4 linked regions of the Homo sapiens genome follow. The protein of the gene in region 4 purifies or fractionates together with the protein of the main gene of each other region. This does not show direct contact. Each region holds a gene or a part of one and is shown on either strand. Other genes may lie near its edges.

What was found.
Region 1: the proteins of BMX (region 4) and PDCD2L purify together in Homo sapiens (affinity purification with mass spectrometry; 3 studies listed by BioGRID and IntAct, with this or other methods). This does not show direct contact.
Region 2: the proteins of BMX (region 4) and ARIH2 purify together in Homo sapiens (affinity purification with mass spectrometry; 2 studies listed by BioGRID and IntAct, with this or other methods). This does not show direct contact.
Region 3: the proteins of BMX (region 4) and USP24 purify together in Homo sapiens (affinity purification with mass spectrometry; 3 studies listed by BioGRID and IntAct, with this or other methods). This does not show direct contact.

The regions. Positions count from the first base shown.
Region 1 is NC_000019.10:34,407,375-34,414,400, reverse strand, and holds part of PDCD2L (programmed cell death protein 2-like), read right to left. Parts: intron 5,241-7,026; coding exon 4,891-5,240; intron 665-4,890; coding exon 554-664; intron 1-553. UniProt on the Homo sapiens protein: Over-expression suppresses AP1, CREB, NFAT, and NF-kB transcriptional activation, and delays cell cycle progression at S phase.
Region 2 is NC_000003.12:48,921,830-48,928,855, reverse strand, and holds part of ARIH2 (E3 ubiquitin-protein ligase ARIH2), read right to left. Parts: intron 6,508-7,026; exon of another isoform or gene 6,388-6,507; intron 6,109-6,387; 5' UTR 6,045-6,108; intron 4,139-6,044; exon of another isoform or gene 1,395-4,138; 5' UTR 1,298-1,394; coding exon 1,043-1,297; coding exon of another isoform or gene 1,001-1,042; exon of another isoform or gene 185-1,000; intron 1-184.
Region 3 is NC_000001.11:55,093,339-55,100,364, forward strand, and holds part of USP24 (ubiquitin carboxyl-terminal hydrolase 24), read right to left. Parts: intron 6,532-7,026; coding exon 6,433-6,531; intron 5,221-6,432; coding exon 5,138-5,220; intron 4,747-5,137; coding exon 4,605-4,746; intron 4,380-4,604; coding exon 4,260-4,379; intron 3,835-4,259; coding exon 3,614-3,834; intron 3,285-3,613; coding exon 3,160-3,284; intron 2,059-3,159; coding exon 1,917-2,058; intron 750-1,916; coding exon 599-749; intron 1-598. UniProt on the Homo sapiens protein: Ubiquitin-specific protease that regulates cell survival in various contexts through modulating the protein stability of some of its substrates including DDB2, MCL1 or TP53.
Region 4 is NC_000023.11:15,496,601-15,503,810, reverse strand, and holds the start of BMX (cytoplasmic tyrosine-protein kinase BMX), read right to left. Parts: upstream 3,005-7,210; 5' UTR 2,871-3,004; intron 1-2,870. UniProt on the Homo sapiens protein: Non-receptor tyrosine kinase that plays central but diverse modulatory roles in various signaling processes involved in the regulation of actin reorganization, cell migration, cell proliferation and survival, cell adhesion, and apoptosis.

The sequences.
Region 1 (7,026 bases), on a different chromosome or scaffold from region 4:
GTTCGAGACCAGTCTGGCCAACATGGTGAAACCCCATCTCTACTAAAATACAAAAAAATCAGCTGGGCAGGGTGGCGGGCACCTGTAATCCCAGCTACTTGGGAGGCTGAGGCAGGAGAATGGCTTAAACCCAAGAGGTGGAGGTTGCATTGAGCCAAGATCACGCCACTACACTCCAGCCTGGGCGACAGAGCGCGACTCCCTCTCAAAGAAAAAAAAAAATTAAATAATAATAATAATAAAGGCTATGAGAACATGGACTTCATCTGTGCCGTTTCTTGCTATATCTGCAGCACCTACAAATACCAGCAACTGGCATGCAGAATAGACTTCGTAAGTATTTGTTAGACAAGTGAGTGCACTTTACCTTACTGAATCCTCCTACACATCCTATAAAGTAGGTATTAGGTCCTATAAAGCAGGTATTAGGTTCTCTCTTGGTTTGGGGAATACTGTAGGTTTTGCTTTTCTCATATTTTCCTGTGTTTTCCAAACTAATATGTATTCCTTTATAATCAAGGAAAACAATAAAAGGAACTGTGCCTTTTTTTACCTCAAAATCTGCTCCTGACAAGCAGCAATTCGCTTCATGAATTTGTAAAACGTCTGATCTCCACTTTTAATTATGGTCTTCTCATATTTTTCATCACCATCATTAGGAAGGCTAAAAACAGAAGCAGAAAACACTTTTGAATGTCTATATCCAGAAAATTACAGCATTTGCAAGACAAAACAAGATAATTTTCTTTTAAAAAATTTTATCAGGGCAGGCGCAGTGGCTCACGCCTGTAATCTCAGCACTTTGGGAGGCCGAGGCAGGCAGATCACAAGGTCAGGAGATCGAGACCATCCTGGCCAACATGGTGAAACCCCATCTCTACTAAAAAATGCAAAAAATTGGCTGGGCATGGTGGCTTGCGCCTATAGTCCCAGCTACTCAGCAGGCTGAGGCAGAGGAAATCGCTTGAACCCGGGAAGCGGAAGTTGCAGTGAGCCGAGATCGTGCCATGCCACTACACTCCAGCCTGGTGACAGAATGAGACTCCATCTCAAAAAAAAAAAAAAAAAAAAAATCAATCACGCCTTTAATCCCAGCACTTTGGGAGGCCGAGGTGAGCAGATCACCTGAGGTCAGGAGCTTGAAACCAGCCTGGCCAACATCTTGAAACCCCATCTCTAATAAAAGTACAAAAAATTAGCCAGGCGTGGTGGCGGGCGCCTGTAATCCCAGCTCCTTGGGAGGCTGAGGCAGGAGAATCACTTGAACCCAGGAGATGGAGGTTGCAGTGAGCCAAGATTGCGCTATTGCACTCCAGCCTGGGCAAGAAGAGTGAAACTCCGTCTCAAAAAAAAATTTCTCAGGCCAGTGCAGTGGGCTCACGCCTGTAATCCCAGCACTTTGGGAGGCCGAGGCAGGCGGATCACTTGAGCTCAGGAGTTCAAAACCATCCTGGGCAATCTGGCAGAACCTTGTCTCTACAAAAAAATACAAAAATTAGCTGGGCATGGTGGCATGCACCTGTGGTCCCGGCTATTCCAGAGGCAAGGCTGTGGTGAGCCGTGAGCACACCATTGCACTACAGCCTGGATAACAGTGTGAGACCCTGTCTCAAAAAGAAAAAAAAAAAAAAACTGTCAAAGTTAAAAAACTGTAAAACTGTCAAGTAATTTTTTTTTTTTTTTGAGAGGGAGTCTCCCTCTGTCACCCAGGCTGGAGTGCAATGGTGCAATCTTGGCTCACTGCAACCTCCACCTCCTGGGTTCAAGCAATTCTCCTGCCTCAGCCTCCTGAGTAGCTGGGATTGCAAGTGTGCGCCAACACGTCCAGCTAATTTTTGTATTTTTAGTAAAGACAAGGTTTCACCACGTCGGCCAGGCTGGTCTCCAACTCCTGACCTCAAGTGATCCATCTCGGCCTCCCAAAGTGCTGGAATTATAGGAGTGAGCCACCGCACTCAGCCAAAAACTGTCAAGTAAATATTTTTGATATTTAAATTGTGTACATGTAGCTCTGCAGTTCCCTGCCCAACCCTTCTCCCAAGCCATTTTCAACTCTTGAGTAATTATTTACAATTTAAAAAGTCGCAGGGCACAGTGGCTCACACCTGTAATCTCAACACTTTGGAAGGCCGAGGCAGGTGGATCACGAGGTCAAAAGATCGAGACCATCCTGGCCAACATGGTGAAACCCTGTCTCTACTAAAAATACAAAAATTAGCTGGGCATGGTGGTATGCACTTGTAATCCTAGCTATTCAGGAGGCTAAGGGAGGAGAATTGCTTAAACCTGGGAGGTGGAGGTTGCAATGAGCTGAGATTGAGCCACTGTACTCCAGCCTGGCAACAGAGCGAGATTCTGTCTCAAATATATATATTTTCATATATATTTTTTAATATATATATTTTATTATTTATTTTATATATATATATATATATATGTATTTTTCATCTGGGTGCGGTGGCTCACGCCTGCAATCCCAGCACTTTGGGAGGCCAAGGAGAGTGGGTCACTTGAGGTTAGGAGTTTGAGACCAGCCTGGCCAACATGGTGAAGCCCCATCTCTACTAAAAATACAAAAATTAACCGGGTGTGGTGGCGGGTACCTGTAATCCCAGCTACTTGGGAGGCTGAGGCAGGAGGATCATTTGAAACTGGGAGCTGGAGGTTGCAGTGAGCCATTATCACACCGCTGTACTCCAGCCTGGGTGACAAAGTGAGACTCTGTCTCAAAAAAACCAAAAATTTTTTTAATTAGCTGAGTTTGGTGGCACACACCTGTAGTCCCAGCTATGGGGAAAGCTGAGGCCAGAGGATCCCCTGAGGCCAGGAGTTTGAGGCTGCAGTAAACCATGAGCAGGCTGGGCGTGGTGGCTAATACCTGTAATCCCGGCACTTTGGGAGGTCGAGGTGGGCGGATCACGTGGGGCCAGAACTCCAAGAAGAGCCCGGCCAGTATGGCAAAAGCCCATCTCTACTAAAAAGAAAATACAAAAATTAGCTGGGTGAAGTGGCGCACGCCTATGGTCCCAGCTACTCGGGAGGCTGAGACATGAGAGCTGCTTAAGCCGGCGAGGGAGAGGTTGCAGTGAGCCGAGAACGTGCCACTGCACTCCAACCTGGGCAACAGAGCAAGACTGTCTCAAAAAAAAAAAAAAAAGGCCATAACCACACCACACCACTGCAGTTCAGCCTGGGAAACAAAGCAAGATCCCATCTCTAAAAAAAAAAAAAAAAAAAAGAAGAATACTCTAGTCTGAAGAAACCCACCAAAAATAAGCAAATACATAAAAACTTAAGAAATTAAAAAATAAAAAATCCTGCCGGGCGCGGTGGCTCACACCTGTAATCCCGGCACTTTGGGAGGCCAAGGCAGGTGGATCACGAGGTCAAGAGATTGAGACTATCCTGGTCAACATGGTGAAACCCCGTCTCTACTAATAATACAAAAATTAGCTGGGTGTGGTGGCGCGCACCTGTAGTCCCAGCTACTTGGGAGGCTGAGGCAAGAAAATTGCTTGAACCCAGGAAGGGGAGGTTGCAGTGAGCCGAGATCGCACCACTGCACTCCAGCCTGGCAAGAGAGCCCATATCACACACACACAAAAATAAATAAATAAATAAATAAATAAATAAATAAAAAATAAAAAGTCCTTATAACCATCAATTCTATTAAGGATTATTTTCAAACACCAACATGTCTTCATGCATTCCCCTTCATCATTATTCTGAAAAAGCCTACAAATGAAACAGTTCTGGTAAAGAACCAGGCCATTTCTCCAAATATTCTATTGTAATTTTTTTATTCTAATAGTAAAAAATGCTGGGTGCAGTGGCTAAAACAAATTTTTAGGCCAGGCACAATGGCTCACGCCTGTAATCCCAGCACTTTGGGAGGCTGAGGTGGGTGGATCACCTGAGGTCAGGAGTTCGAGACCAGCCTGACCAACATAGTGAAACCCCATCTCTACTAAAAATACAAAAATTAGCTGGGCATGGTGGCACATGGCTATAATCCCAGCTACTTGGGAGGCTGAGGTAGGAGAACTGCTTAAACCTGAGAGGTGGAGGTTGCAGTGAGCCGAGATCGTGCCATTGCACTCCAGCCTGGGTAACAACAGCGAAACTCAAAAAATTTTAATTGGTCAGACATGGTGGTGTGCACCTGTACTCCCAGCTACTTGGGAAACTAAGATAGATTGCCTGAGCCCAGGAGTTCAAGGCTGCATGAGCTTTGATCACACCAATTCACTCCAGCGTGGGTGACAGAGTGAGACCCTGTCTCTCTCAGTCAATCAATAAGCAAAAATGATCATTCTTACCTCTTTAGAGAGCTTTGGTTTATAAAGCCTTTCAAGATCTACCCTCTCGCTTAACTCTCAAAAAATCATGGGATGAAACAGAGAACAGAGATATCACCATCACTCTCATTTTACAGAATTGAGGATCTGAAAGCATCTCTGAGGTCCTGGGCCAGTTCTGGAGCCACAGCCAAGAGTCAATAAACAAATGGCGTTTTTCTTTTCCTTTTTCCATTTTTTCACCCCAATCTTATTATCCCAGATCAAATGGTAGTTTTCTAACTTGCCTGTCTCTGCTATAAAGACATATTAGAAATATAAAAGAAAATTTAAGAGTCAGTGAACGCGTCTTCTATAAATACTTGCCATCTCTAACTTCTGTTTGTTCATCTTCACTTTCTTAACGGCAATTATAAATAGAGCAGGGTTTTCAAGCTAACTCAAGTTGGCTGATAAGGAAGTGAAGCAAAAAGGTCCTACATACAAGTTCTGCCTGAAAGTTTCCCCAGGTCCTGTGGTGAAACTGAAGGGTAACTCTTGTGGCTGCTTCCCAATCCAGTCACCTCTCAACCTCAGCAGCACACATCCTCACCTTTGGGAAAGCAACTGATCCATGGCAATGCCTTCTCTCTGCTGATAGTCCCTCAGAAGGCTGTGGGCATGATCCAGGTTGACAAAGTCCCTGTAATCATCCTCATCTGCAACACAGATGTAGTAGGGCAGGAAGAGCGGCAGCCCAGGAGGCACAGGATGGGCAGCACCCAGGACAGCATCCTGCAGGCGGAGGTCTTGGAGCCGAGCAGTCCAGTCTACGTCTTTGGCACTGCTGGCATCATTCCCAAAATCCAAGGTAAACTGTGGTGAAGGCCCCTCCTCAGTATCACTTCCCCAGTCATCAGCACCTTCACACCAGTCCTCAGCTGCAAGGCTGTTTCCCTGTTTCTGGAAAAATACTCAGTGAATGAGGTCCGAGCACATTTGGGAGGTTTATTCTAATCCTTCGGCTCCAGCCACCCACCGCCGCGCCTTCCAGAGGGAGCCTTCACACCATCCCCTTCCCCTCTGGTACACTCCAATCAAACTTTCTAGACCCTATGTACTCAAAAGCACGTTGGAGGTGACTTAAAATACTTGTCTTTCCTTTTTGGGGTGAGTGTGACAGATATAGTACAGGGGTTATTCAACCATCCGTTCCAATATCTTTCTGTTGTGCTTCATGTATTGCAGGAACTGAAAAGAAAGAACTACCTTTCCCAGACCCCTTAGCAGCTAGGGTTTCAGATATGATTAGGGGTCTGCTAATCAGGTCTACTAGAGAGAAACATGAACTTGAGACAGAGTGAAGTAGAAAGAAAGACCACATAGCAAAAGGTAGCCATTGTGTAGACACAGACAGAACAAGGCTTTGGAGCCAACGGTTCGGTGGCAAAGACAGCCTCTAGTTCACCAGATCACACCTAAGCTTCCTGACAGCAGGAGAGGTGGCATAGCAGCTCCTTCACGGCCAGTTCTGAGGTGTGATTCTGGAGGGCATTCCTGGAGCCTCCTCCTTCAGCCTATCCACTTACTAAAAACCTCACTCCTGTGTTAAGTCTGTCTCAGCTTAAAAGCCAGGCATGGTGGCACGTGCCCGTAATCCAGCTACTCAGGAGGCTGAGGCAGGAGAATCGCTTGAACCCGGGAGGCGGAGGTTGCAGTGAGCCAAGATCACACCACTGCACTCCAGCCTGGGTGACAGAGCGACACTCGGTCTCAAAAAAAAAAAGAAAAAGCAACAGCACTTTTCTAATTATCTGCACCTGAACCCTGACAAATATAGGCAAACACCACTGTCTTCAACTTTTTATTTAAGTACTGCTAATACTATGCCTAGCAAACATCAAGAACTGGGTGCAGGCCGGGCCCAGTGTCTCACGCCTGTAATCCCAGCATTTTGGGAGGTTGAGGTGGGCGGACTGTTTGAGTCCAGGAGTTCAAGAACAGCCTGGGCAACATGACAAAATCCCATCTATACAAAAAATATGAAAATCAGCTGGGCATGGTGGCACGTGCCTGTAATCCCATCTACTCAGGAGGCTGACGTGGGAGAATGGCTTGGGCCCAAGAGGCAGAGATCATGCCACTGCACTCCAGCCTGGGTGACCAGAATGCAACCCCATCTCAAAAAACAAACAAACAAACAAACAAACTCAGTGTATATATAAAGACACATTTACAGTCAAAGGGAGGCTAAATTGTGTTCTGCAGCTACCAACTTGCCTGCCTTTTCAATAAATTCAGATTTCATCTTATGAAATGTGTTAATACATATATAGCTCTCATAAAGTATATTTACTATAAAGACACGTATACATTATCACATACAACCACATATATGTACACACCCATATATATTCCCAAACAGGAAAATCAGTAAACTGTGTGTCTCAAGACCTTCAGTGTAAGTTTAAAAAAACTACTATATATACAATGGAATATTTTTCACCCTTAAAAAAAAAAAGGAAATTCTGTCATTTGTGACAACATGGATGGAACTGGAGAACATTTTGCTAAGGGAAATAAGCCAGACACAAAGACAAATGCTGCATGTATTCACTTATATGTGGAATCTAAAACAACCTCAAAGAAGTAGAGAGTAGAGTGGTGGTTAAAGAAATCTGGAGTGGCCAGGTGTGGTGGCTCACGCCTGTAATCCCAGCACCTCAGGAAGCCAAGGCGGGTGGATCAC
Region 2 (7,026 bases), on a different chromosome or scaffold from region 4:
AGAAATTAGTCACACAAAAAAAAAAACAACTTAGCTTTCAGCTTCCAGCCAGTTGCTAATAAAGACCTGAGTATCTAAATTCAAGGTATTAGCCTTTGCCAACCATCTGGGGAAAAAAAAAAAAATCCCTAAACTAGTAGATAAAGCAAATTTTATAGAAATCATACAAGGCACACCTTAGTTATTTCTGTTTAAGTTCCAATAAAATTTATTTGGTTGACATCATGCCAAGGTGCCCTTTTGACCTCCAATTTAATCAGAAACAAAATCCAAGTAACAATTCATGAAAAAAGATTAGTGAAAACACTAAAGAGAAATATTTCCAATTTCCCATAATGGCCAGTGTTAGAGAAGGAAACATGCTTGTTGGGAAACTGTCAAAATGATCATAAAAAATGTAAATAGGATAATAACTGGCCTAAGGTACAAGACATCCAAAGGTATGTTTTAGCTTATGTGTTAAATAAAATGCTTGCTGATGGGGTAATCAACTTTGTTCATTCTTTACAATTTCCATACTAACACCCCCTAAATCAATGAAATACAAGCATAAGAAAGAATTATTATTAAAATCAGTACATGAAACAAATGAGCTCATTAGCCCAAAGGCAATGACTATTCAGGGCAAACCAGAGGGATCTGTATACTCTCAAGACATTTATCAGTCACTCACAGTCGTACAGAAGATGGTGATTCTGATGCTTATTGTATCAACCTCATAAAATTCTGAAAACTCACTTCCTGAAACGTGCAAAGTTGTGCAATTCTGCTACTACACATTTCTGGTATGGTACATCTTTCTTGAATCTGTCCCACCCCTACTTTCTAATTCTTACTAATTTGGGAATCTGAGGACCTTAGACATGCATATATTAGAAAACAAAGTAAATGTAACAAAATGTCCAAATGATGTTGACATACACTTAAATTTGGTTTCAAGCTACAAGGCCATTCAATTAGTCTGGAGGAGACATTAATTAACAACAGCTCATCCTTAGATTTAACTGGGGGGGATTACACTGGAGTTTACAACACTGCTCACCTTTAGGACAGAAGCTAAGCTGGTCATGTGCTCATTGAGGGCACCCTCAGATTCCTTGTAGGTCAAGCAAGTGAACTGGTACTCCTCGGGATCAAAGGCATCAGCCCCCTGCTGCTCCACATCGCTGGCTACTCCCACGTAATAGTCCTCTATGTCCCCAGGGTCGTCTTCTTCTTCTTCTTCCTCTTCCTCACAATTTGGGTCATAGTCCTCTTCATTGCTGTCAGACCCCTGGCTATTCATGTCCACTGACATCTTAGCATCCAGCCAAGTTGCAGATCAGGAAAGCAGTTGCTTTTTCCCCCTCCCCCCAAAACTACCGCTTTCTCAAATGCATTAGTATTTTTGTCTTCTAAGGGAGGAAAAAAAAAATAAGTGTTACTTTTTCCCCATGACAAGTTGTAACAGAAACCATTCAAGAATCAAAATGGGACAGTCCTGGCCCTAATCTCACTACAGCCTATTCCAACTCTGGTATCACATGGGGAATCTTACTATCATCCCCCTGGCCCAGGCTTATAAAAGGGAAATCCTTCCCTGGAGAGACAGAAGCAGCTAATAAATGGTAACTTCACATGAAAGGCCTGGCATGACAGGGCAAGGCTGTCTGCTCTATGTCAGAAAGTCAAATTCCAATGAACTTGTTATTCTTGCCAAAGTCCTTAAGGGAGAAGCACATCCCCACAGCTGGCAGCCCAGAGGGGAGGCAACATAAAGGTTTAACTACCAAAGTTTAAAATTTTGCTTATCATGCCCCGTTAGTATTGATACAGACAGTACATAAATAGGAACACTTCCTGCTGTAATATGTAGAAAAAGAAAACCACTGTTTCACAGACATTACTTTTAGGTGTCTGAAAAATAGGTGCATAGTTGGTAAAGAAAAAAAAAACACACATAGGTGTTCAACATCCTCCTCTAGTCTGCAAAGTTGACTGATTTTTCAGGTTTAAAGAGTTCTACTGGCCGGGTGTGGTGACTCATGCCTGTAATCCCAGCACTGTGGGAGGCTAAGGTGGGTGGATCACTTGAGGTCAGGAGTTCAAGACCAGACTGGCCAACATGGCGAAACCCCATCTCTACTAAAAATACAAAATTAGCCAGGTGTGGTGATATGCACCTGTAATCCCAGCTACTCGGGACGCTGAGGCAGGAGAATCACTTTAACCCGGGAGGCAGAGTTTACAGTGAGCCAAGATTGCGCCACTGCACTCTAGCCTGGATGACAAGAGTGAAACTCCATTGGCCGGGTGCGGTGGCTCACGCCTGTAATCCCAGAATTTTGAGAGGCTGAGATGGGTGGGTCACCTGAGGTCAGGAGTTCGAGACCAGCCTGGCTAATATGGTGAAACCCTGTCTCTACTAAAAATACAAAAAAATTAAGCAGGCGTGGTGACAGGCACCTGTAATCCCAGCTACTTGGGAGGCTAAGACAGGAGAAACGCTTGAACCCAGGAGGCGGAGGTTATAGTGAGCTGAGATTGCGCCACTGCACTCCAGCCTGGGCAATAAAAGCGAAACTCCGTCACACACACACGTACACACATACACACACACACACACACACACACGAGGGAAACTCCATCTCAAAAAAGAAAAGCCCGCAAACAGCGAAATGTTACTTAATTACATATAAACGAAAAGAGAATACTAGTTGAGAAAGTGAAACAGTCACAAACCCTAACTTCAACTCACAGAAGATTGTGGCAAACACCCATTAACTTTTCTACACAACTACCATTTCAACTGATGAGCTGAAAGGAACAATATCAACTAGCGATTTAAATCTAAAACTAGGCCAGGTGCGGTGGCTCACGCCTGTAATCCCAGCACTTTGGGAAGCCAAGGCGGGTGGATCACGAGGTCAGGAGATCAAGAGCATCCTGGCCAACGTGGTGAAACCCCATCTCTACTAAAAATACAAAAATTAGCTATACGTGGTGGTGCGTGCGTGTAATCCCCAGCTACTCAGGTGGCTGAGGCAGGAGAATCACTTGAACGAGGGAGTCGGAGGTTGCAGTGAGCCGAGATCCCGCCACTGTACTGCAGCCTGGCAACAGAGTGAGACTCCATCTCAAAAAAAAAAAAAAAATCTAAAACTAATAGAACCTTAAAGTGTAAGAGCATTTGGATTTAACAGTACATAAACAATTTATATAAACAAATCTTGATTAAATACAAAAGCAAATATAAAGTCTACTTGAAGTAGGTAATCTGTCTGAAAAAAAACAACCAACCATAATCTAAAACAAAGACTGAGGGTGTGGCTCACAACTATAATCCCAGAACTTTGGAAGGCTGAGATGAGAGGATCCCTTGAGGCCAGGAGGTCAAGATCCACCTGAACAACCTAGTGAGACCATGTCTCTACAACACATTTAAAAAAAAAAAAAAAGAAATCAGCTGGGCGCGGTGGCTCATGCCTGTAATCCCAGCACTTTGGGAGGCCGAGGCAGGTGGATCACGAGGTCGGGAGATCGAGACCATCCTGGCTAACATGGTGAAACCCCGTCTCTACTAAAAATACAAAAAATTAGCCGGGCATAGTGGCAGGCGCCTGCAGTCCCAACTACTGGGGAGGCTGAGGCAGGAGAATGGTGTGAACCCGGGAGGCGGAGCTTGCAGTGAGCCGAGATCGCGCCACTGCACTCCAGGCTGGGCGACAGAGCGAGACTCCGTCTCAAAAAAAAAAAAAGAAAAAAAGAAAAAAAATCCCGGCACTTTGGGAGACCAAGGTGGCCAGATCACCTGAGGCCAGGAGATTGAGGCCAGCCTAGCCAACATGGCAAAATCCCATCTCTACTAAAAATACAAAAATTAGGCTGGGCGCAGTGGCTCACACCTGTAATCCCAGCACTTTGGGAGGCCGAGGCAGGCAGATCACGAGGTCAGGAGATCCAGACCATCCTGGCTAACACGTGAAACCCCATCTCTACTAACAATACAAAAATTAGCTAGGCATGATGGCATGCACCTGTAATCCCAGCTACTCAGGAGGCTGAGGCAGGAGAACTGCTTGAACTCGGGAGACGGAGGTTGCAGTGAGCAGAGATTGCACCACTGCACTCCAGCCTGGGCAACAGAGCGAGACTCAATCTGAAAAAATAAAAAAATAAAAAATAAAAAATAAATTAGCTTGGCAGGGTGGTGCACACTTGCAATCCCAGCTACTTGGGAGGCTGAGGCAGGAGAATCACTTGAACCAGGGAGGAGGTTGCAGTGAGCCAAGATCATGCCACTGCACTCCAACCTGGGCAAGAGTGAGACACTGTCACACACACAAAAAATAAACAAATAAATAAAATAAGACAGGCATAGCGGTCATGCGTCTGTAGTCCTGGCTACATCGAAGAACTGCTTGGGCCTGGAAGGTCAAGGCTGCAGTGAGATCGTGCCACTGCACTCCAGCCTAGGCAACAGAGAGATTCTGTCTCCAAAAATAATAATAATAATAATAATAATTCAGGTAAATAATCTTCTACTTAAAAAAAAAAGGCCCACGTACAGTGGCTCACATCTGTATCAGTGGCTCACGCCTGTATCATAATCCCCACACTTTGGGAGGCTGAGGCTGGAGGATCATTCAAAACCAGGAGTTCCAAACCAGCCTGGGTAACATAGTGACACTCACGTCTACCAAAAGGAAAAAGAATTTGTAACCAGTCTAAAAGACTATGGAGTACTGAGACATAGTATCACTCTGTCACCCAGTCTGAGATATAAAAACATGATCATGGCCCACTGCAGCTTCCAACTCCTGAGCTCAACAGATCCTCCTGCCTCAGCCTCCTGAGTAACTGGGACTACAGGCATATGCCACCCCCATACCTAATTTTATTTTTTGTATAAACAGGGTTTTACTATGTTGCTCAGGCTGGTTTCAAACTCCTGGCCTCAAGCGATCCTCCTGCGTTGGCCTTACAAAACGCTGGGATTATAGGCAAGAGCCACTGTGCCCAGCCTACAGTCACATTTTTATATAATAAAAATATTGGCGAGGCGCGGTGGCTCACACCTGTAATCCCAGCACTTTGGGAGGCCGAGGCGGGTGGATCACCTAAGGTCGGGGGTTCAAGGCCAGCCTGACCAACATGGAGAAACCCCGTCTCTACTAAAAACACAAAATTAGCTGGGCGTGGTGGCACATGCCTGTAATCCCAGCTACTCAGGAGGTTGAAGCAGGAGAATGGATTGAACCCCGGAGGCAAAGACTGCAGTGAGACAAGATTGCATCATTACACTCCAACCTGGGCAACAAGAGGGAAACTCTATCTTAAAAAAAAAAAAAAACACTCACTATATCTAAGTTGATATGTTAACTATAAATGCTCCCATTTCTAAAAATTAAAAAAAAAACCCTATTAATTGTGGGGCAATAAAAATAATGTTTGCAGTCTGACCTTTTTTTTTTTTTGAGACAGAGTCTCACTCTGTCACCCTGGCTGGAATGCAGTGGCACGATCTCAGCTCACTGCAACCTCTGCCTTCCGGGTTCAAGCAATTCTCCTGCCTCAGTCTCTCAGTAGCTGGGATTACAAGCACATGCCACAATGCCCAGCTAATTTTTTTTGTATTTTTAATAGAGATAAGGTTTCTTTTTTTTTTTTGAGACGGAGTCTCGCTCTGTCGCCCAGGCTGGAGTGCAGTGGCGGGATCTCGGCTCACTGCAAGCTCTGCCTCCCGGGTTCACGCCATTCTCCTGCCTCAGCCTCCCAAGTAGCTGGGACTACAGGCGCCCGCCACTACGCCCGGCTAATTTTTTGTATTTTCAGTAGAGACGGGGTTTCACCGTTTTAGCCGGGATGGTCTCGATCTCCTGACCTCGTGATCCGCCCACCTCAGCCTCCCAAAGTGCTGGGATTACAGATGCAAGCCACTGTGCCTGGCCAGCAGTTTGACTTTTAACAAACTCTTCTGTATGGTAGAGCCACATAATCACAACTAAACTTAACGATGGTGTTTTTTCTTTAGGAGAAAAAGTTAATCTTTAAATTAAAGATACCTGTAATTCTTGGAGATCTCTCAGGCAGATGTCACCCAAGTATTCTACATAATATGATTTCCATCTAAAATGAAAAGAATTATATTTATATTTTTAAAGCTGGTATACTGCTTTTGCAAGTTTATTTTTTTTTTAAAGCAAAGGTATTTTAAAGGACAAGTAACAAGGGACAGAGTAACTATTAAATTAATTATCTTCTTTTAAAGTGCCAACAAAAAAAATCCATGACATAATTATATTGACAAGAGTTACATGACCTTCTAAAAAAAGAAAGTATTCAGCTGGGTGTTGTGGCTCACGCCTGTAATCCCAGCACTTTGGGAGGCCAAGGCAGGTGGATCACCTGAGGTCAGGAGTTCGAGCACCTGTAATCCCAGCTACTCGGAAGGCTGAGGCAGGAGAATCACTCCAACCAGGGAGGCAGAGGTTGCAGTGAGGTGAGATCGCGCCACTGCACTTGAGCCTGGGTGACAAGAAAATTCGTCTCAAAAAAAAAAAAAAGAAAGTAATCTAAGTAAACAGGTAGCAATAATTTAATCTCAATTCTCTCTCTCAGTTTGAAAGACCACTTCTTTTTTTTGTTTGTTTGAGACAGGGCCTCCCTCTGTCACCCAGGTTGGAGTGCAGTGTTGCCATCTCAGCTCACTGTAACCTCCACCTCACCCAGCTGAAAGCCTGCTTCTTTACTCCAGTATTTCTGTCCTTCAGATTCTCAACTACCACAATTTCAATCCTAAATGTTATGTAGATGTTGACCAAGCAAATTGTAACTGACTTAAAATTTAACTTTTACTACAAAATCACCTCCACTGTGGTAATCTAACACAGAATAATGCTAATATTTCAGATCTCACTTTACTCATGCTGTCGTGGCTCATTTATGTCACATTACTCATAAATGTCGTGGTGGTGCATGCCTGTAGTCCCAGCTACTTGGGAGGCTGAGGTGGGAGGATTTCTTGAGCACAGGAGGTTGAGGCTG
Region 3 (7,026 bases), on a different chromosome or scaffold from region 4:
TTTGATTAATTAGTGTATAAAGTCTGGACTGAGTAGACAGTTCTGAATTTAGATCCTTGTCCTGTGACACTGGCACATACTTCTTCTTTTCTGAACCTGTTTTTCCATCCAAAAAATGAGAATAAAACCTGATACTGCATAATAATCTTTTACAAATTAAAGATGTGCTTAAAGCACGTAGCACACAGTAGGTGTTCAATAAATAATGGCCAATGATTGTTTTATTAGTCCCACTCAAAGGTTATGAACCTTAACTTGTTTTTCTCTCCAGACAAAATAAGTTTATTTCAGCAACACGATTTCTTTACTGCCCACTCCCCACAACTCTGTTTATTTGTGACATTTCACACTCACAGAGCAGGTCAGTGATTGTGCCTGCCAATCATGAGTGTGTATTCATACTTGTGTTCTTAGCACTCCATGGCTCTAGCTCTATGGCCCCCTCTGTGTCGTGGCATAAAAGGTTCATGAGACAAGTGTGTAAGACGATGTAGCCCCAGTGGTACAACTAATCCAGCAGAAGTACTTCTGGACCTACTAGATACATTTTGATGTCCACGTGGATATTCCCCCTTAGAATTTTTTATATGGTTCTTACCTGGTATATTCGAGCAGGCATTTTCTCCACAAACAGTCCTTTCTTCTCGCCTTTTTTAACCAGCTTGGTAAGAATAGACAGCCGGTCATTGTTCGGCCTATGGGGCCGAGGGGATGACTGAGGTGAAATTTCTGGTGAAGATGGAGCTGACCTAAGAGATAGAATCAGAAAACTCTGTCTAGTATAAAGTGGCTATTTTTTCAGTAGTTACTAAGACTTGCCAAATTCACATAAACGGGTATTAGACTATTTGATTATTATACATGTATCGAAACATAAAACTGTACCACATAAATATATACAATCATAATGTAACAATTAAGAAATTAAAAATGCAATACTTTCTAATTAGTTGGGAGAACTGATTGACATTATAGAAGATAAAATAGTGCAGGGCAAATTTAACACAAATTTTTACTTAAGTGGCATATGAGATTTAACATTTAAGCACAAAATGAATTCTTCCTTCATATTATTGTGAGATATCTTTCCCAGCCATTAAAAAAGCAGTGAAATAAACTTATCTTAGAGCCACACACTCAAAGTCGTGTAAGAACAAAGTATTGAACCAAGTTTTCAAATTTAATAAAACACATATAGTCATATTTCTCACATGAAAAAGTAAACACTTTCCTGACCCAATATATTAAAAGGCAAATTCACTGACAATAGGACCTTTAAAAAACAACAACATTCTGACAGTGTTGGCATAGCATTATGCTTTGGACAAAAAGTGTATTCAACAAATGCTGCTAACATTAAAAAAAAAAAAAAAAAAAAGTCCAGGTATGGTGACTTATGCCTATAATCCCAGCACTTTGGGAGGCCTAGATGGGAGTATTGCTTGAGCCCAGGAGTTCCAGACCAGCCTGGGCAACATTGGGAGACCTTATCTTTACAAAAAACAGACAAACCAAATATCTGGGCCTGGTGCCCCTCGCCTGTGGTCCCAGCTATTCAAGAGGCTGAGGTGGAAGGATCGCTTCAGCCTGGGAGGTCGAGGCTGCAGTGAGCTATGATCATGCCACTGCACTCCAGCCTGGGTGACAGAGTGAGACCACACTGTCTCAAAAAAACAAAAAACAAAACACTTCAATTCTAGAATGAAATAACTTACGTGCATGTTTCTAAATATGTAACAACTTCTTGCCAAGAAAATAACCATGAAGCAATAAGGGATTTATTTTCTTTTTGGAATTCTTTTTAGAATTTCTCTCCAGCTTAGCTAATTATCTTTAAAATCTCAAATAGTATATTGTCACAGACCACATCATCACCATAGAAATCACACAGCAAATTACATGGAAGAGACACTTACAGAGAGAGATCCTCAGCTTCCTGCCGTACAACGCTGACTCGACTTTTCTTTGGTAATACTGGGGAGTTCTGATCAGACACCCTTTGGTAGAAAAGCATATAGGCATTCCAGTATCTTCGGCGCACATCAGTGTATGGGTTTGCTTTATAACAAGACATTAAGAAACACATCTGTAAATAAAAGTTTTTCTTGTCTTGACAATCTAAAACAAAGGGCCCATTATTCCAGCAAGTAGTTAACTACTCCCTAAGTTTGTAAAATGCAAAGTATAAGTAAAATGTGAGTGTCTTTAGAGTACTGCTTAGCATGGAAGTCAGGATACTTCAGTTGTGGGCCTAGCTGGATCTCTCACTTGGAAGTGATATAGGTGGGGACAAGGAATAAGGGAGCAGTATGGTAATGGAGTAAGAGAAAGAAGGTAAGTATCCTAGGGAGGTCTAAATGTAAGCAAATAGCAAGTGACATTTAAAAATATGTTCTGTGGCACAAGATGGGATAACTGGCCTCACTTAACCATTTCTGCCAAGATCGGCCAAATCCAGGCAAATTCTGACAATACTATATCCAACTCTTAAAGGTTACCACCATAAGATGCTTAACTATAATGGCATGGTATCAAAATCTAATACAGTGAATCCAATACAGCTAAAAATTTAGAAATACCACTAGAAGATTTCAAAATCAGGTTTCTGAAATGCTAAGGTCTCCACCAAATAGCTTTTTATCAAATAGCAAGTTCTGATTGGGCTGTACTTCTCCTCATACTCTTTTTTCCTGGGAGTGGGGATTGTAGAGGGAAAGACTGCTTTGCCACACTGCATAATAAATATGGTTTTAAAAACACAGGTGCTAGAAATGTCTTCTCTAATTAGTCACACCTCTACATAAGTGAAAAGGAAATCTGAAAATTTTAATGGATAACTACTTCCAAAACTATTTTTAAGGTTCAATTTCAGTATTCATTACTTTCTCTCTGATGCTCATTTCATCCTTTTAACTTACTCCCAGCTCCCCTACCTATCCCTCAAGGTTGTTGTAAGAAATTATTTAAAAAAATTTTTATAAACAGCTTGAACATTTTCACTTTGGTTATTAAAGAGCTTGCTCATGGTTCTATTGCTAGAACAGTAGTACAATAAAAATAACAAAATCTGTTGTGTTTTTATATAAAGAATACTATTAATTTTTATAGAAAACGATAAATAAAAAAACTAATGGAAAATATCCATTTGTAAATACTTACTTTGATCATAAACTTTTGGTCTATATTCTCCTCCAAAGCATTCATACTCCAGGGTCTCGTCATTTAGGTCAAATTCTTCTATAACTGTGTCATTAAATTTATACCACTTTCCTTTTCCACACCCTCTAGAACCCAGAGATCAGACAAACATTATAAGGTTAAAAAAATCAACCTCCTCATCCTTAGCATTGATCTCAATGTATTGTCTACAAATAAAGCAGGTGTTTACCATTTGAAAATATCTAAGAAATATGTAGCAACAATTATTTCAATTTCTAAAACAACTTTTCAAATTGAAGGGGTAAAACCAGTTGCACGAAGCTTTAAAACTTCAAAATGAAACACAGTCAAGAACAATGCCAAAGTGTCCCTGCACCACAGCGGTGAGTATGGATGATAACGGAGAGCAGGGGAGGGCAGAAAGTGAGTAAGTGCTGCCTCAGGAAACTCTTACCGCCTGTCCTTAATGAAGGAATAGTAGTGGCCTGCGTGTGCCTGCCCACTGTGTACGATGACACCGACAAGTTCATAGTTTTCTGTGAGGGCAACCTTTTTTCGTGGGGATCCTCCACCGCCCTGATCCACACTTCGCCCATTTTCCCCAACTTCAGAAGAAGAATCTTGGCGAGCCATTCCTGAAACTGTGTAAGGCTCCATGTTTAGCATCCAGGGAAACTATGTAGAAGCAAAAAGACCATATTAACGTTGATTACTAACATATACAGCAGTACCCAGTTAAGTGAGATCCAAATAAGAGGAAGTGTTTTCCTAGTTTAAGCTAGGAACAACTACCTCACCAGTTCAAGTATAAAATCTCAGAAATGTTAAGTCTGGGAACGTCTAAAGTAGCCTCTGGTTTGAGCCCTAAGGAAGGCATTTTCCTTCATAGTAATCACTAGGATGCCTTCTAGAAATGAGGGCCACTGTTTCCAGATCTGCCTATTCCGGTAACAGCAGCTGCCTAAGATAAGGGGCTCTTCATAATGCTGAGACAACAGCCTTAACATGGTAGACAGAATATGAAAATTGAAAAAGGAAAAAAAAAGAAGTGAGTGAGGAAATGAATGGTTGTGAAAAATTTCAGGAAGAAAAAAAGTTACCCTTATTTGTTCATCATATTTAATGGAGCGTCCGCTTTCCCAGTCAAACCCAAATCTCATTAGGTGAATTACCAAGACGCTAGGTAAAGATTTAATACAGGTCCTTTTCACTGTTATTCTCTAAAGAAAAAAAAAAGGAAAAAGAGCAAATCTGAATGATCTCCATGGAGAAAATAAAACAGCACAGTAATTAATGCAAAGGCCTTTCTGATCCATGTGAAAACAAGTAATGACACAATCTAATGGAAATAACAGTAGGAGCTTAATACTGATTTTACATAAAACAAAGACGCACTATGCGAATAACAAATTAATCTTGTTTTTTAAAAAGGGCAAACATAATACCTTTTCTTTACACTTTTCACAGTAGTACGCATTACTTCCTTCTAGAACTTCTCCTCTAACAAATTGGTCCAAAGAAATTTCCAAACTCTGACAAGAAGTCACTCCTAGATTGAGAGCCATGAAAGCTTCTTCACGCTCATATCTGATTAGGAAATAACAGAAAACCCACAATCAACAATGGAATTTAAAACTCTTCAATTATCATAATACCTAAGCTTGAACACAGAACTACATTTTTAATCTGGGAGTCCCTCAATATTTTAAAAGTCCATTACTAAGTTAAAATGCCACTTTGTGACAATTAAGAATTGCCTAAAATTATGAATTTCAATGAATATTTTCTTAAGCCCACAAAGAAATTTTTTCTCCTTCTGGAAGTAGAAAGCAAAGAAATTTAAGTCACTAAATACTTATAGATCTGTTGACAGGGAGAGAGTTCTAAGTCTCTTAACAAATGCAAAATTTACAACATACTAAACAAATCACTTCAAAAGGATGATCATTTTTCCTGTGTCGGTGATATCTTCACTCACCTGTGAGGACAGTCTTTACAGATCTTCTGATCAGAGTAGATGCCCTGAAATGTATTCTTAAAAATTTGGTCTCTCCCCATTTTCTGTTGGAATGAAAAGTTACAGTTTTAAGTGATGCCTCCTGAACTTATGAGTATACAGAATTTTATTAACACATTGCAATTTAAGGACCAAAACAAAACGCGTCATTCTGGTAGTATCAGCTGTGGTGAATGGAGGCTAAACCCATTATTGGCCCCACTGTCAGAGTGATGCAGACGATCAGAAGAGGAAGAGGAGGAGGGATGGGTCAGGTAGAGCTAATGACAAGAGAGTGTTCTCCAGGGTGATTCTGAATCCTTCTCCCTGTGCTACAAGGACCAAGTTAGGGGCAACTCTCAGCAATCTTTTCTTTTTTCTTGTGGATAGAATGCCATCAATTTGCAAGTTACTTTAAAAAATGGAAGAATTGTGCCTACTGATGAGAGGCCAATGCTGGCAGTGACAGCGGGATCTGAGAAGGCAATACCGTTTAGGAAGTCTGCCACATGGCTTACAGGGTAGAGGTAGAGAGCTTTGGGTTTCAACAGCACCACGAATAACTTTTTAATCTGGCTCCTTTCTCCCCTGTGCCAGAGCACTCTCTGCTCTGCACAGGGCCATCAGCTCACCAGTGACTGCAGCACTCTTCTGAGGCCAGATTATTTCAGTAGACACACAGAAAGAATATGTAGGTAGGAATGGTTATTACTATGTAGTAGAGATTAAGAGTTACATACTTTACTGAGCGTTAGATGAATTAAGAAAATATGCAATTCTAGGCCAGGCATGGTACCTCAAGCCTGTAATCCCAGCACTTTGGGAGGCTGAGGTGGGTGAATCTCTGGAGGCCAGGAGTTTGAGACCAGCCTGGCCAACATGGCGAAACCCAATCTCTGCCAAAAAGTACAAAAATTAGCCGGGCGTGGTGGTGCACACCTGTGATCCCAGCTACTCGGGAGGCTGAGGTGCAAGAATCTCTTGTACCTGGAAGGTAGAGGTTGCAGTGAGCTGAGATTGTGCCACTGCACTCCACTCTGGGTGACAGAGCGAGACTCTGTCTCAAAAAAAAAGAAAAGAAAAAAAAGAGAAAATATACAATTCTATTGATCTGTGTTATGTTTTGATGTTTAAACACAGAATACATTATAGTTCTTATGTTAAAGATAATCAATTTCTGATTCGTCAGTTTCATAGTAACCCCAAATGCTAAGACACTATTCTCATACTATAATTAGAGTTTGAGGGAGTTAGAGGGAAAGTACAACTTTTACTACCTTGAGGTATTCATCCATCTGATCAATGAGACTAGTAAAGAATTCATATGCATCCTGCTGTTCTCTCACATAAAGTTCTTTATTCCACATCTTGAAAATCTATATAACAAAAATTAAATGTTTTTAAAGGAAAAGTAGCAATTTCTGAATGTGGTAGAAAGGGAACATGAAAGAGCACTTAAATGCTTATAAAAATCAGGTTCACTATTAGGATGTGGACATTTCTAGTGAAGTGAGACTAGCTTGTATTCAGCCATCCACCCTTTTTTCTAGTCCCCTTACAATCATAACAAGTCTCTGAAATCAAAAGTGGGTACTGGGTAAGATCTAGGCCATGGAACAGAGAATTTCTCTCTTAGAAACAAATCAACCTATGGGGAAAAACACAAGGTGATCCTCCAATATGTGAAACACAGTAAAGCAATGTTTAAAAATAGTATTCTTGGCCGGATGTGGTGTCTCACGCCTGTAATCCCAGCACTCTGGGAGGCCGAGGCAGGCGGATCACCTGAGGTCGGGAGTTCAAGACTAGCCTGACCAACACGGAGAAACCCCATCTCTACTGAAAACACAAAATTAGCCGGGCATGGGGGT
Region 4 (7,210 bases):
GCCCAGGTCACACTGCTAGTGGGTGGAGCTAGATTTGAATCCCGGCAGTCTAACTCCACATCCCATATTCGTGACCACGCTACTAATGCTAGAGAAGGACATGCCTGCTGTGTGACCCTCCTAAACCAGAGACTGCTCTAACCTAAATACAGGAAGGCAGTCATAGGATGTCAAATCTTATAAGAAACCTAGAAGTCATTTTACAGATGTAACACTGAGCCCCAGCAGCCTAAGTGACTTAGCCAGTACTGTTAACCAGTGACCTAAGAGGCATGGCCCTGGGAGCCAGCTTCAGGTGTCATACCTGTACACCATCCACTCCATGATGGCAGTAAACAGAGTAGGAGATATCTGTGTGTTCAGCCAAACATACTACAGCTTTGCTAAGGGACATAGTTTGGTGAAACTACCCATAAATCTGAGTCTTAACAGACCAGTGCAAGAGACATTTTATTGGAAATATCAGAAAGATGTTACCTATAATCTTTCGATAGGAATCTCCTGCTGAAAGGCAGTGTTAAATAGCAAAATTTGAAACCACATTCTGAAAATAGGTAAGAACATACAACCTCAAAAGTTGGAATAAATTCTCAGTGGTACAGAAGGGGAGCAGGAAACAGGATACCAAGGGAGACAGGGTTATCTAGTTAAGTGGCCATTGGATAGTTCCCTCAACCAGGAAGTGTATTCCCTGACTGGCTCAGGGTGGTGTCTTTAAAGATTTATCTTTTAAAATTCAGAGATAAGGATAGCAATTCCTTACCCTTTGACTTGGTTTAGTTATCCTCTCTTACTTTACATGCCATATAGCTAAAGATTTTGTAGGTGTCAAGATGTTAAAATAATACATGTGGTGGGAGGGCAGTAGAGCAGGAAGGGTGGGAAAGAAAGGGAAGACGCTCCAAGTGGGGTGGGATCTGGAAGGGAAACTGGAGGGCCCTGTGACAAACTTGATCTTCAAATATTTGTCCAAATGCCAGGCCCGCTTATCTTCGTGCTAAATAACTGAACAAAATGTGATGGTAGGTTTAAACAAGAACAAAAAGTTTGACTGAGGATCAAGTAAAGTGGTTCAAAAAGTCTTAGGATGCTGGCCAAAGACAAATACTGGCTTCACAGAACCTGACAGATCCTTATTTCACATGATGTTATGCAGGAGAGGGAAAGTTAAAGTTGATCTTGGCATGATATGGACAGAAATCTTTTAACATTGACAGTCAAATTCTCAGCATCTTGGAGCATCATACCTTAATTGATCCAAAATAAGTGTATAAAAACCAGACACTTTGGGAAGATCATTTTCTCACAAAGAAGGCAAGAATCTTAATGCTAGTCTTTTTGGAGCTAAGTTTTGCTTTAGGTGTGAGATTAATCTTCAGTGCCCCATAGAGCTTTTCTAAGTCTTTTCTTCTTTTCAGTAACCTCTTTCTTTCTGCTCCCTCTCCTCTGCTTAGGGCACTCTCTCTGGGCAACTTCCTTAGGAGAAAAGCAAAAAGTAATAAATCCATGAGCTAGCATCTCATGCTGAATTAAACATGTAACACTGCTTTCATGATGCCGGTTAGTGCAAGTGAAAGCACCGAGCTGGGTTCGAATCCCTGCTCTGTCTCTATGGAATCTGTCATGTTACTTAACCCAGCTAAACCTCAGCTTCCCCATCTGTAAAGGCAGTGAAACAATAACCACTTCGAAGGGTTACAAGTAGTCAAGAGAAAATGGCAGCCTAATGCCCAACACCCTAGTAGATATTCTAAAAGCTTATGTCCCTTCTGATCACTCCATAGGCAAAGTTTTAAAAAGGACCATAAAAAGTTAAAAAACTAAAGACAGTGAAATAATAATGATCCTTAATGATAAAATTTTACTTCTCATCCCTCTGTCCCCAGCTCCTGGGTATAGGAGAAAATGGGAGGCAGGAAGACCTCCTCATGTATTGCCATGTCAACAAACACCAGTCCATACATAGTAGGTTTGTCGCAGACTTTCCATCCTGAGACGAGTTACCATAAAATGAGGTTGAACCATACCCTTATTGACTGTGTATTTGTGCCACCATATTTCCTACAAATAAATACTTGGATGTGACTCAAAGTGTGGTCCGTGCACTTGCATCATCCGGGCGATCATTAGACATGCAGACTCTCAGTTCCCACCCGAGACCTCGCGCAGCCAAATCTTCATTTTAGCAAGATCCCCAGGTGATCCACGTGCACAGGAAAGCTTGAGAAGCACTTACATGGACCACAAAGTTGCACTCCTTTTCAAATCCAATGAAATCATTGTGGCCCACAAAATCTTTCAAAATTATATGGATATGAGTACAACTGCATGGTTCACCTCCCTCCCACCTGTCTATCTCCATCTAAAATACACAAAGCACTTGATTTAGGGAGACCTCAGGAACCTAAGAGCAAATATTTGTAGCTAAAGTAACATCATAAAAACACAGTTAAAGAAGGTATAAGGAACATTTCTATGTCTCTTTGGAAGCAGTTATGAGGCCAATATGAAAGGCTATGGAAAGGCAATACCTAAAGAAGCGGATGGAGAAAATTAGCAGAGAATACACACAAAGCTAGGTAGAACTGGTGGTGATACATAAACAACCTGAGAGCTTCCCTAACTGAGATTTTGAGCAAGGAGTGAATTTACAGTGAAATTATAGCAGTTTCAGCCGTTGGCCTCCAAATTACCTGGTCCCATCTAAAGTCCCAGAGAAAGCCCTGGCAATTTCATATTAAAAATGTTGTACTATTTTTCTTAAAGTGAGCTTCCCAAAGTTTGTAACTTCAGGCCCCACAACACCGGGAACCAAACCTATTTTCCGCATAGTATGCGACACTGAGTAGCCACCTGCCGCTTAAACGCACCGTCTCAGCTTGTTCCGTGCTTGCCTGGGTCCGCCGCGGTGCTTGGTCTGCTGTTGCAGGAACACGGCCCCGGCTGTCCTGTTTCCAGAAGCAAATTGTTTCACATTTTCCTGGCTGCCGGGTCAGAAATGGCTACATTACTCAGTGCCCCCAACACGTTTATTGTCCTACAGAGCCTTACACAATCCCACAGGAAACCACGCTCAACACTTAGCCAACACTTGTTGATCTGATTGAACGCAACAAAAACGGAGACAAAAGCATACTTCATAAAGTTTCCAATTTTGATAACTATAGCTCCCACTTTTCCCAGGCAGCTCTCGGGTACATGTGATAACCCTGCCTTTGTTTGTAGAGCTCTATGCTGGAAAGGACAAGAAAATATCTCGGCAAAACCCGACTGCTGACGCTGACTTCTCTCACATGAGCCAGGAAACCATTAGGTAATGCAAAGTGCACAGAGAATATGCAATGAAAACTTCAACTCAACATTTGGACAAAGGAAGGCCAGAGAATATGTAAGAACAGTTCATATGATGGAAAAGGAGCTTATTTATATAGTTTAAGTTATTAAGAAATCCAGAAATGGAAAATAGATTGTTTTTGCTAAGGTATGGTACACCTAGATCGCAATGAAAAAGTGTGTCACTTGACATCATTATGACAGACTCACAACTTTTGGCTTCCCCCATTCCACTATTTTCTCTGGTGCATACCGGCTGGCCATCTGTAATAAATCTAAGGACATATTTTATGTCCTGCTATGGATAGCCAAGAAAAGTAATCATCCTTTTGGCATGCATTGACACACTGTGTTTACTTATAAATTGTTGCTTACTGTAACTTATTTGTAAGTATCTATGATGTGAAGAAGTCTTGGGTTGGCAGAAGAGAGTGAAGCTACTGGCTTTCAAAGAGGTATTCTTTTGAGTGTACATGGAATTAGCATCATTTCTATTAATTCGTTCAGTCAAGTCTTATTTGAGAACCTGCCATGTGCTGAGCATTCCGTTAGGGGTTGGAGACACAAGAGCAAACAGAAGAGAGGCAGCCCACATCTTCAAGGGGCTTATGTGTCTGTGTGGGGGGGGGGGGAACCACAAATAGTGGTTTAATTACAGTAGAGTATGGGAAAAATAACTTGCAGAAATATTTTTTAATATTTCAGTTTGGAAACTAGAATTTTGGGAAGGGAAAGGAGTCCTTCAGAAGAATTCAAAAGAGTGTAACTTACATTCTAATAGCAAATTAAAGTCACTGATGGATTCCAAATAGCTCTCCATTCTTTAGGAATATAGTAGGTAGTCATTCAAAAAATTAAGGGTGAAGCAGGGCAAGAGTGGCACAACAACCTGGCTAAATAAATTAATTCTACACTCTGCTAGTTAATTTCCTTTTCCACATGGCGATTTGTATTTACTTCACAACTTATATATGGTAATATGGCAAAAGTTCGATTCTAGAATAAAAAGTAAACTTAGGGTAGGGGAAGGAGGAGTTGGTGATATGGTTTGGCTGTGTCCTCACCCAAATCTCATCTTGAATTGTAGTTCCCATAATCCCCACATGTTGTGGGAGGGACCTAGTGGGAGGTAATTGAATCACGGGAGTGGATGTTTTTACCGTGCTGTCCTCATGACAGTGAATAAGTCTCACCAGATCTGATGGTTTTATAAAGGGCAGTTCCCCTGCACACGCACTCTTGCTTGCCACCAGGTAAGACATGCCTTTGTTCCTCTTTCACCTTCCACCATGATTGTGAGGCCTCCCCAGTCATATGGAACTGTGAGTCCATTAAACCTCTTTTCCTTTATAAATTACCCAGTCTTGAGTATTTCTTCATAGCAGTATGAAAATGGACTAATACAGTCGGTATAACTGTGGAAACACCTGGGCACAATCTCTTGGGATTTCCATCCCTTCTTGGGGGCATAAAACACCCAAGGACAGCTGGGAGGAGTGGTTTCCTCTAAGGCAAAATGTCACAGATTTATTTACTTTATTCTATTCATTCACTTCCTCTGCTACTTCTCCTGTTTCTTTGGCTCTGTATTTTCCATGAGTTTAGTTACATCCTAACTTTTGGCAATCTGCTATTACGATAATATGACTTCATTTACTCAAATTATACTCTGCATTGTCATCTTTACTCAGTTAGAATTTTAGGAATTTTCTCCTAAGCTTGTTCATGCAAGCCTTTAGCAGGCCACAGCTAAAGGGACATGGCATGGGATAATTTGACTTCATGATGTGAACAAGCCTGTTTACTTGTGCTTACATTTTTAAAATAAAAAAGAACCTGGTAGAATCCATTGTCAGAGAGAGAGAGAGAGAAAGGGGGAAGGAGAGAGAGAGAGAGAGAGGGAGAGAGAGAGAGAGAGAGAGAGAGAGAGAGAGAGAGAGAGGAAGAAAGAAAATGAGATAATCAGAGTCCTTCTGGCTTGTGGCTGACCTGTATTTTTCTCTCACTTTAGAAAATTCACTTGACTCATGGCTTTAAACACCATCTATATGCTTATGACAGCCAGGACCTCTTCCCTGAATTCCAAACTTATGTTTGACTGTCAACTTGTCCATCTGTACTTGGGATATCTGATATATATGTCAAAACTTGTCCAAAGCTGACCTCCTGATTCACACCCACCCCCCCACCCCCAAAACTAGTTTTTCCTACAGTCTTCCTCTTCTCAGCTAATAGGAACTCTCCCCCTCCAGTTGCTCTGGCTAAAGAATATGGAGTCATCCTTAATTTTTACCCTTCTCTTGCACCAAACGTTCAATCCTTCATGAAATAAGGTTAGCACTAGCCGCAAATGTACCCCCGTTTGGCCACTTTTCAATACCTCTACTGCCACCTACTGGTCTGAGTTGCCACCACCCCCAGGGGGAATATTGTACTAGTCTCCTGACTGTTCTCCTTCTTCCACTCTTGCCCCTGCAGTCTATTCTCCACTGAGTGGCCAGAGTGATTCTTTAAATGTAAGTCACATCTTAGCACTTCTCCAGTCTGAACTCTTCGCTTGTCCCCCCTGTTCTGGTCCCCTAGGACTGTCTCTAACATCATCACATGATTATTCTACTTCATCTTACCACTCCTGAAACTGGCATCTTTTCTACTCCTCCAATATTCTGAGCAACATCTGCTCCAGGGCCATTGCATTGGCAGTATCCTCTGCTTGGCAAACTGTCCCAGATATCTGACTGGCTCGTGTCCTCATTTCCAGGTTCTGCTTCTAATGGCATCTTCCTAATAGCCCTACGCAGACCACCCTGTTTAATATCACAGCCTCACCCTCCACCCAGCACTCCAATCTCCCTTACTCTGCTCTGTGTTTTCTTTCTTCTACAGGACTCATCACCTTATAGCATAATACATAATTTAATTATTTATTACCTTTATTATTTGTCTCTCCTCACTAAAGAGTAAGACCACAAGGGCTCCAACAGCTTATCTCTGCAGTTTGAACTTTGTTCATGGGTATCTCTTCTTTGGGGACGTCACTCCATTACCTCCTGCATGTATTCCTTCTGGTGCTAAAATAATCTGCTTGTAAGTTGGGATCAGATGTGAATTATTCACACTTACTAGAATTGAAGATTAACATGTCACCTCTCCTAAGGGTGCTTGCATATCAAACCTCAGGTTCAGTGCCGGAACAAACTGCCCTGTTTTTAATGAAAGGAAATGGGTGAGTAGGAGGTGGAGGTAGACACAAAAATGTTTGTTGTTTCCTTTTGTTATCAGCCATGTCCTGTCCTGTCACCCATGAAACCTTTACATAGACTGTTGGCATTTTGTCAATCTTACTCCTGTTTTTCTAGTCGGAGGTAAGTATTTGTGGTCTACATGGAGTTGGCGAACTATGAGCCCCATGAGTTTTTGTGAATAAAATTTATTGGAACACAGCCACTATTCCTGCCCCACGGCCTTTGCATTGATGGTATCCTCTACTTGGCAAACTGTCAAGTGTTGTCTATGTCTGCTTTCAGTCTACAACGGCAGAGTTGAATAGTTGAGACAGAGACTGTATGCTCACAAAGTCTCAAATACTTACTATCTGGCCTTCACAGAAATAAATCACCAACTCATACTCTGGAAGCATCCTGCCAGCTTTGGAAGTGATCTTGCAGCTTGGAATTTAGTTTAACAGCTCCATTCAACAGAGAGTCACTTCATTTACTGTGTACAAGGTGCTAGAGTTGGAAGCAAAGAAAGTAGACAAAGGGGTATAACATTTTGGAATCCTTCTAGTTCTGATTCCCACTGTGACTCAAATTATTTTTTTCCTAAGATTGTATCATGAAACATTTCAAAATATAGAAAAGTTAAAAAAAGTTAA